Homo sapiens: one gene and its partner. The protein of the gene in region 1 interacts with the protein of each later gene in a pairwise test. Each region holds a gene or a part of one and is shown in the gene's direction. Other genes may lie near its edges.

Region 1 (5,116 bases):
TTATTTTCTTCTGCACCCCATTGGGTTATCAGTGTGTACTCTAGGGAGACTAGTGACTAAAAATGATAGGTTCTATTTAAAGTTGATCGGCATTGAAAAGAAATTGGACTGAATAGTCTCACTCCAACAACCATCAAGAGTCTTTGTGGCATTTTCAGAATTGTTGATGTCATCGTATGTTTTAATGGCTTTAAAAAAAATACATTTCACCTTTTATAGTAATGTTAATTCTATGTATTTCCTGTCAATAGAAATCTAATTTATATTTCGCTAAACCCAAGCTAAAAATATATATTGACTGTGAAATGTGCATTAAATTGTTATTGATCATAGTTATCAACATTATGCTATGTTATAACAGCTGTTTGAGATGGAGAACGTTTTTACTGTGTCATCAGATCCTCATCCCTCTCCTGCAGCCCCTCCTTCACTTTCTTTACCCTTATCTTCATCTTCTACCTCATCTGGGACTAAAAAACAAAAGAGGACCCCAACTTATCAGAGATCTGTAAGTCAGGAAAGCAGTCATCTCAGCTTACCTTGCTTTGTGTTAAGAGCATGACCTAGGATTGCCACTCATTCTGGTTGAAATATCTTGCCGACTCACCTTCTAACTTCCCGAATCATTTTTTTCACCTTCACTCTTGAAAGATAACTTCAGTAGATTAGGGTCTTACTGCCCAAAGTATATCTAAGAATCAGAAGCATTATTATCACCTTGGATCTTAATAAAGATGGAAAATTTCAAATCCCCATACCTACTGAGTCTGATTTTATATTTTAACTTCTCATTTGAGAAGCCCTGGTTTACAGCCAGACCTTCTTGGTTTGAATCTTCTACTATTTGACTTTGGCAAGTCATTTAACTTCTCTGTGTCTGTTTTCTCATTGGTAAAATGAGGCGAATACAATACTTTCTTGTGGGCTTTTGTGAAAGTTAAATGAGTTAATATATGTTAAACACAGAACAGTGGCTAGTGTAGAAGAATTAGGACGTAACCACCTACAGGTGTGGTGGCTTTGATTTACGTGATTTGACCATCACACATATCGTTGACTCAAACTTTGGTTTATCTTTCTAGAATTTGTTACTCTTTTTTCCTAGTGAAAATATATCCTTTTTATTAATAATGCCCAACATTCCACTTAAATGGAAATACTTATAAATCAGATTTTCAGTGAAAGGGTCTAAAACATAATTGTAATGATTTAGAAATGTCATTACTGTGGTAAATTATAGACCTAGGCTTTGCTAAGGATTTCGTCCTGTTTTGTGCTTCACTTATAGTTTTTGTTGTTTTACTCAAAGAAGGGAAATGGAACATCCAATGTGATAGTATTTTATGACCTAGGCAGATTCCATTATATTGCTTTTAAATAGCTCCTATTTCACTAAAGAATGGGAACGAAGTGATAGTTACAGATTTCATCAGTATGTAAAAAGTGAAGGGTTTCTTTTAGGTAAAGATTTCTTTAAATGTACCTGTGAAATGATTCAGCATTTTTAAAATGGAAATGCTTTTGCTGTCTTGGAGTTTTGTTGTTTCAGAAGTTTTCTACTGCACTATTTTGGATAGTCTTTCATTAAAGGACCTAAGCATGAATTACTCTGAAATTTTCTAGTTTAAGTATTGCATAGAAAGTTCATTTTATTGTGTTAATCTCTACTAACTTGAAATATGCCTTCCAAATGCATGACTTACTAAACAGTATTAAGGTATTGGCTGAAGTTTCAAAATAGCGTTACCAAATCTCTTAAGAGTCTTTGGTAGTTTGTGGTCGCTGTCTCTTAATATTAATTACCTTTGTTCTGAAATTGTTGTTTTAGTAATTTTCACTTCATGTAAAGGCAGCATTTGCTAATGTAGTTGCTATACCTTAATATTAAACCCCAGAAATTCTATTTTTGTCTGATAAGTGGAAATTCTACCATAATTTGGGGCAATTCCCCAATATAATAAGTTGTTTCCTCTGAAATGTTTTATTAGCTAAATTAATGCTGCAGTAATAAAGTCTATAATCTTCCCTTCATTTTACTTTTTTTTGCGTTTTTATATGGAAGATTTAGTGACTTATTAACCAGACTTAATATGCTATGGAGATAATGTACAGATATGTATATATTCTTTTTCTTTTTAAAACAGATGAGCTTTGATCCAAACCTTCTCCACAACAATGGACATAATGGGTACCCTAATGGTACTTCAGCAGCACTGCGTGAAACTGGGGTTATTGAAAAACTGTTAACCTCTTACGGATTTATTCAGTGTTCAGAACGTCAAGCTAGACTTTTCTTCCACTGTTCACAGTATAATGGCAACCTGCAAGACTTAAAAGTAGGAGGTAATCTGTCAGTTCTCCTTTGTAAAAATGTAATCACAAAATTTGTCTTGCATATCAATTTGTTCATGAGTGTTTTTCAAAAAGTTTTATGTAAATTAAAACATTTTGGACTTTTAGTTGTACTGTTTAGTGAAGAATATCTGTATAAACCAGCAGAATCCTTGAAAGATTATATTTGCATATATTTACAATAAATGCTTGGAAGATTTCATTGTTTTTCCCCATAATGATGACTGTTTACCCGTAAGATTTTAAGCCAGTACGAATATTGAACTTTTGTAATGTTACTTATGATTATTCTGTCAGGTACTATTTTGGGTAGTACCTGAAAAAAGTAATCCTTAGAGTGTCACCTCTTAGAAGCTGGGCGCGGTGGCTTACGCCTGTAATCCCAGCACTTTGGGAGGCCGAGGCGGGCAGATCACGAGGTCAGGAGATAGAGACCATCCTGGCTAACACGGTGAAACCCCGTCTCTACTAAAAATACAAAAAATTAGCTGGGCGTGGTGGCAGGCACCTGTAGTCCCAGCTACTCGGGAGGCTGAAGCAGGAGAATGGTGTGAACCTGGGAGGCGGAGCTTGCAGTAAGCCAAGATGCCACCACTGCACTCCAGCCTGGGCGACAGAGCGAGACCCCGTCTCAAAAAAAAAAAAAGTCACCTCTTAGATTATATGGAAATTCATTGTGGCTGACACCATACAAATTATTTCACAGGCCTGGCATGGTGGCTCATGCCTGTATTCCCAGCATTTTGGGAGGCCAGGGCAAGTGGATTGCTTGAGCTCAGGAATTCAAGACCAGCTTGCAGCCTGGGCAACATGGCAAAACCCCATCTCTACAAAAAATGCAAAAATTAGCTGAGGAACGTGACATGTGCCTGTAGTCCCAGCTACTAAGTAGACTGAGGTGGGAGGATCGCTTGAGCCCGCAAGGTAGAGGTTGCAGTGAGCTGAGATCGTGCCGCTGCACTCCAGCTTGGGTGACAGGGAGACTCTGTCTCAAAAAAAAAAAAAAAAAAAAAAAAAAAAAGTTTTTACATGTGAAGTGTTTGGCTTACTAAAGGACTGAAATTATGAGGCCTCTGTGCATTTTTAAAAAACGTTTGAGAAAAGAGTCAGTATAATAGCTAACAAGATGCATGCTATAGGAACATTGTTTTGGTTAATCCTCATGGCAGTCCTGTTAGGAATTATTCTCCTTTTACATAAGAGAAAACTGAGGTACAGAGGAGTTTAAAAAAAAAACTCGCCAAAGGTTATGATTGTTAAGTCATCTCATTTGTAGTATGTGTAAATGCCATAAAAACTAAGATTAAGACATGGCTATCTTAGCATAAGATGGTGGTTCTGAAACATTTGTGTGTATCAGAATTAGTGGAAGGCTTGTTAAAACACAGATTGCTATACTTGATCCCCAGAGTTTGTCTTTGGCTAGGACTAGAGTTAGGCCCAGTATTTCTTTTAAGCTCCCAGGTGATGTTAATGCTGCTGGTCCAGGGACCACACTTTGAAAACCACTGGTCTAAGGCAATTCAAATGCTATGTTAAGTATAGCTTGGAAGCAATATATCGTTTCGCAAAAATCAGTTCAACAAACATAACACATTATTTATTTTTAGATGATGTTGAATTTGAAGTATCATCGGACCGACGGACTGGGAAACCCATTGCTGTTAAACTGGTGAAGATAAAACAAGAAATCCTCCCTGAAGAACGAATGAATGGACAAGTTAGTGACTTTGATGCTTTGTGTTTTTTTAGGGCCCTGCATTTGCATATCTTTCACATTAGAAAAGGAAGATTCTCCCCATCTCCTCAGTTTGCACGAAAGAGAGCTATAGTATATAAAGATTACTATTTTAAAATTAATCAAAAGCACTGGCATTTCTTGACCTGAAATAAAAATATGGTCAAGACTCAATTGGGTTTTTACATATAACCCTGAGTCAATGCTTACAGTCAATTTACATACTGTAAGTTTGAAACTTGGCAGCATGACATCCTCTTGTGGATCATATTAAAATGCATCCCTGTATATAGTATAGAGGATATTAAAATTCAGTTTATATTGCACAGTGCTGCTCCTGAAATGATTAGCAATGGAAATTTTTTTTTTTTTGACTGGTAGGTTGTGTGCGCTGTTCCTCACAACTTAGAGAGTAAATCTCCAGCTGCCCCGGGTCAGAGTCCAACAGGGAGTGTATGCTACGAACGTAATGGGGTAAACTTGTGTATTTTTCTTAAACCTTTGCCTGATCCACCATGTGATCTATAAGCGTACTTTAAAATTCAAAATAGAAAACGTAAGCTGCAATTGTTAAAATCAGTTTTAAATTTGGTTTCTAAGAGGCTTCAAATGCAGCATAATCAAAAAATTTAAAAAGAAAAATTCCATAGGACTTCCAAGTGTCTTAGTTTGCCCAAGTATGACCTTAGTTAGAACATTAAGGTAAAATGTTCCTTTTAATCACTTTTTTGGGGGTTGTGGGGGGGATCTTTTTCTGGTTTCTTTTAAGCACTAACACCAGCTTTTTTTGTTTGGAATGCCTTATATAAAATTGTTTTTTTGAAATGTAACTATAGTCTCTGGGCAAATGCTTCCACGTGTGTAAGCTTTTTGAAGTTGGATTGCTGCTCAGCTGTGGACTCGCAGAAGTCATCAGCACCATGGAGGGGAAGTGTGTGTTTATATGAATAAAGTGACTTGTCATAAAGCATTTAATTTTAAGAAATTTGGCTTAAAATGCCAGTATAAGAGGTTTTTAAGTAAGTA
Region 2 (5,116 bases), on another chromosome or scaffold:
CAAACCTGGTGGCAGGAGGACCCGATTTCTGAGTACGCCCTGCTTGGCTCTTTGTGTGTAACACCTTTACTCCTTCCTTGTCCTTGTGTTTCTGCTGCTTGGATCTGATGTTTCACGCAGTCCATTTTCATTTGTCTCTTTTTGTATATCATCTACTCAGTGGCTTGGCTGAATTACTGTTACCCTCAGAAGTTTGGGCCCCCACATTAATTATGATAAAAAATGTCAAAATAACAAGTTATCTACAAATTTCAATGTAACTTTCTGGTAGAAGTGCTTCTTCATGGATCTGTGACAGAGAGTGGATATGGTATCTAGGCAATAGATTGCTGGGTCATTTAGAATAATGAAGACTGAACTCCACAGTCGTAGTCAGTGCTGTCTGTCTGCCCTAGCATTAGAAATGAGAGAAATCAGCCAGACACGGTGGCGTACACCTGTAATCCCAGCACTTTGGGAGGCCGAGGCGGGAAGATTGCTTGAGGCCAGGAGCTCGAGACCAACCCTGGGCAACATGGTGATACCCCATCTCTAAAAAAAAAAAAAAAGTTAGCCTGGCATGGTGGTGTGCACCTATAGTCCCAGCTGCCCAGGAGGCTGAGGCGGGAGGATTACCACCTTAAGACCAGGAGGTTGAGACTGCAGTGAGCCATGATTGCACCACTGCACCCCAGCCTGAGCGACAGAGTGAGACTCTATCTCAAAAAAAAGAAACGAAATGAAGAAAGCATTTTGACCAATGATGCTCTTAGATCCTGGCAGCAGGTAAAAATTATGTACCATTTTTTTCCATTCTTTGTCAGAGTAGATTGAAATCTTATTTTTCTTCTCTATTAAGCCTAAGCAGCTACCAGTTGAAAAGATGCTAGGATCTCTTCATTGGATCATTCCACCACTACTGTCCTCTAACCCCATAAAATCAAAAGCGGTTTTTAGTTTGGTTATTCTGATAAAGCACTTAGTCTAATAAAGATCAAAGCCCAGCATCTGCAAGTGAAAATTCTCCTTCTAACATGATTTCTGGGATTTTGCAGCTTTCTACTTAAAAACAAGGCACAATAGCAAGTCACCCCATCTTCCCCATATGTGAAATGGAGATGATGCCAGTGTCCTAGGGCCATCGTACAAATCAAGCTAAGATCATGTACAGAGAAACAGGTAGCGCTTGAAAAGCACTCATGGTTTCTCTCTGATGAGTCAGTGCCTACCTGGCACAGAACAGGTAGTCAATAACTGTTCGTGGAAGAACAGTTTAAAACAAACAAAAACATAGTTCAAGTAGAAAAACCTTTGTTATAATTTGAATAAAGATCTTCTCTGTTAAGGCCTCAAACTTCTGATGTGATTATTGAAGTGCTTTTTACATGCATGTGCTCAGGCCATCACTGTTTCTGAGTATGGGTCAGAGGCCCTTGGGCCTCTTCACGGTGGGAAGAATTTACAACCTCCCTTTGTTCTCTGTAGTGACTAGATTTAAAGCGAAGCATATGACACGTTTAACTGCCATTTCCCTCACACATACCCCTGTTATTTTTACCTGCATTAGAAATGGATTGGCTCCTTCCAGCACCCCTATTATTTGTACCTGTATTAGTAATGAGTTAGCTGTACTTGAGAGGCAGTCTTTACTGACTTTCCCCACATGCACTAGTCCCAGGCTGTTTAACAAAGAAGCGGGTGGAAGGCATTACCCAATTCGATCGTTTTCCAGGCTTGTGTGATTTTTTTTTTGAGGACTCAGATCAATAATTTTTCTGGTCAGACTTTCCTGGACTGTGCATATTAGCACTTTGACAGTTGAATAAGCATTTAATTTGCATGTCCACCTAGAAAGTTGCAAGGGGGGTGTTTTTGAAGTAGAATGTGACATGTCAGGCCTATGGTCTACAGCCTGAAGTGTCTGAGAGGGAAGAAAGAGAACCAAAGCTTCTGTTTCTGAAATATAATGTGACAAATACCACTTTAATTAAATTCCATAAATTCTCATCCCACTTTTAAAGGTAGGTGGTATTACCCCTGTTGTTCAAATGAAAGTGGTCAGAAATATTGAATCTTGTCACTTCCCTTTGGGTGCAAAATGAAAGGCCCTACATCCTTAGAAGTCACATCAGGATACATCATGTAAGCCTGGTAAACAAATCCCAAGAGACATACTTGAAATATGGAAAGGAAACAGGTACTTGAAAGAGTAGGGCACCTTACTAGCTTGAGATGTATTATTCTATGCTCTCAAAATAGATAATGGTTTGGAAGCACGGCTTGGCTTACTGCTATATTTATGTTCAGAGGTTGCTTGTTTTCCACGTACTTTTAAAAACTATTCTGGAAGGGAAGGGGTTAGTATATATATGTGGGATGTGGAAATATAATAGCCAATTTAAATGAACTTAAAGCTGTAACAGTGATACTATCAGTCTACTGTGGTGGGGTTGCTAATGCATTTAACTGAGTGCTTTTTAACAGCCCAGCTGGAGAAACAGGAAGTGGGACAGGATCAGTGGAAACGCTGCTTGGGTATTTGAAATTCAAGCAGTGAGACCTGAGAGACTGGAGTTCCTCGCCAATTCCAGAACCTCAGTGCAGGGCATTACTCTTTTAGATACAAAGATTGGGTGTAGAAACTCCACATCTGTCAGCCACGTAACACAGCCCATCAGATAATCATGTTAAGGCTAACAGCCAGTTCGAAACATTCTGTAGAACTATATCTGTTCAAGGGCTACCAGGTCCTACCTATCTGTCTCACCTCCTGCTTTCTCTTGCTGGGCGTTTGTGTGCTGTTTGGAGATTCTAAATATTTTACACTGATGTTTCTTTATCTTTAACACATTGCTTCTCTCTTTGTGCTTCAGGGAAGATGGTGAAAAAAGTCTGTCCTTGCAACCAGCTCTGTAGTAATTATCTTTTCTGTTATTTTTGGTCCTTGATTGCAAAGCCTGTTAACCATGAGTTCTTTCAACTCTGCAGTCTCATAGCTCCCTGATTCCTAACTTCCATCTATCTCTGTATCCTATTCTAATAAATATTTAACATGCTTAATTGAGAAATCATCTCCTAGTCGGTGCCCTCAGTGATAACCCCATGTGAGCCTAGCTTGTGACAGACATGGATTGGTAATGGCCATGGGTATATATAGGGAGGTCAGGGATGCCTAGTTCCTATGGGAGAGCGATCCTTTGGTCAGCAAATATGTGCCGGGCAGTGTTATTACCCCAACTGGAAACTCAGCAGTGACGAAAGCATACAAAAGTCCATGCCCTCCCACGTTCACACTGAAGTGGGAGATGTGTGCTAGATTGACGAGGAGAAAAACACCACTTTCTAGAGTTTGTCTTCTTAGACTGTGGCTTCTCATACTTTAATGAGAAGGCCACTTACAGTGTTGTAGGTAGGGTCAACAGGGAAATTCTGTACTTGGGATGTTGGGCTGTAAGTTATGGTTCATAATAGGTTATTGTTAGTAGGATCTGGTGATGTGGGAATAGGGGAAATGTATTATAATGGCAGGAGGAAATTTAAAAATGAATCTTGGGGGTAAGTCTATACTACTTATTAGGGCTTTTCAGAAGAACTAAAAAAGGTTAAGAAGTTAGCATATTCTCTCAAAGGCCTTTCTACATCTTTTATAGTCAAGTCTCCTTTTCTTAGGAGTTAATTTCTGGTCAGAAAATGATAGGTTTGTTTCATTCTTTAATGGGAGGCCTGTATACAGAAGCCAGAACGTGAAGGTTTAGCTGTATGGTTGACTCTTCCTCATGGTTTCTCTTTCCTCATAGAGAATCCTGTATTAGGTAATGTAGGGTAAAATGAAAAGTGAAATTTCGTTCTAAAGGGGCCTCGCAGCATCAGGGGCGACAGACTAGAGAGGTGTGTCTCCCAGCATGAGCTCTGTGGATAAGCAATGGTCACGCCTCCTGAGCTTCTTGTATTTAGCTTTTGACAGCTCTGCTCCCCTGTGATTATTTCTGTTTTTTGTTTTGATTGTCTCTCACATCAAGCTCACCAAGCAATAATTGTTCAAACAGGATGACAATCCCCATGCATGTGATATGCTTGCTTTCTAGATTGAGTCACTCACTGTCATGACTGCCCATCCTCATTGCCTGTGCTTCCCACTTCACCACTCTCTCACATTGGCTGTTCATGGAAGGCTGTTTTCTGTGCTCTCATGCTTCTCCCCTCGCGTTTCCTGTACTGTAGGGAGCTTACTCTTCCCTTCACACTGTATGTGCAATAGCAATCCCCTTGTGGCTCCAGCAGACACCAAGAAATGAGCTGACACTCACACTGCAGTAGTTCCGTGTCTTGCCATAGCGGTAAGAAGCATGTGACCTTCCTCACTGCAGCTTCACCTCAGAATTAGCTGTTACTGCAGCACAGACCTGCTTGTGTGTGCCATTCCCCAGGTGGTAGGATATAAGCTTGACTTGAGACCAGCGATGGTCAGTAACAGGCTTTGAAGTGGCAGGATTGCGTTAGGTGTGCTGCTGTGATCTGGTGCTGCTTTGACCTTGAAAGCAGGATAACGCATGCACTTACTTACCCCCGCATTACTTGGGTACCTTAAGGACTAGTGGTTCACAACTTACTTTAGGAGCTTTTATTTATTCTGTAACACGTGAGATCTGGTAAGACAGTGGGGGGTAAGGAAAACAGACAAGACCATGACTCTTCTTTCCCTCTTCCCCAAAACGTGCCTCTTGGAATAATCTTCAGTGTGCCCTCCAGCAGAGCCGAAATCAGGCAGGCATAGACTCCCTCCTCTCTCATCAAACCGCAGAAATAGAGTTCCTTCATCATAACCGCAAAGCTTCCTCCTCCCCTTTGCACCCTGCCTCAGCTGCATTTTCTTGTCGCTTCTACATGGGAGTGCTTGCTGTTCTGGGAAGAGTGGGGAGAAGCGGTGGGAATCCTTGAGCCAATTGAAACTGAGGTCATCTTCAGGAAAACCATGTCTTCCTGAAGTTGAAAGATTCAGGCACACCATACAGTCCTTTCCTCATGAATAATCTTGTTCTTTACTCATGGGAAATTGGGAGAGGTTAACCCCTCCCAAGTTTATGTTTGCAAATTCATGTTTATGGGTCCAGGTGAAAAACTTTTCTGAACACAGCAT

What was found. Proteins that work in one complex are often made in the same cells at the same time.
Region 2: the proteins of CSDE1 (region 1) and WNK1 interact in a two-hybrid assay, tested with the Homo sapiens proteins (one large-scale study listed by BioGRID).

The regions. Positions count from the first base shown.
Region 1 is NC_000001.11:114,736,919-114,742,034, reverse strand, and holds part of CSDE1 (cold shock domain-containing protein E1), read left to right. Parts: intron 1-361; exon of another isoform or gene 362-370; coding exon of another isoform or gene 371-508; intron 509-2,144; coding exon 2,145-2,343; intron 2,344-3,962; coding exon 3,963-4,072; intron 4,073-4,471; coding exon 4,472-4,564; intron 4,565-5,116. UniProt on the Homo sapiens protein: RNA-binding protein involved in translationally coupled mRNA turnover.
Region 2 is NC_000012.12:901,601-906,716, forward strand, and holds part of WNK1 (serine/threonine-protein kinase WNK1), read left to right. Parts: intron 1-5,116. UniProt on the Homo sapiens protein: Serine/threonine-protein kinase component of the WNK1-SPAK/OSR1 kinase cascade, which acts as a key regulator of blood pressure and regulatory volume increase by promoting ion influx.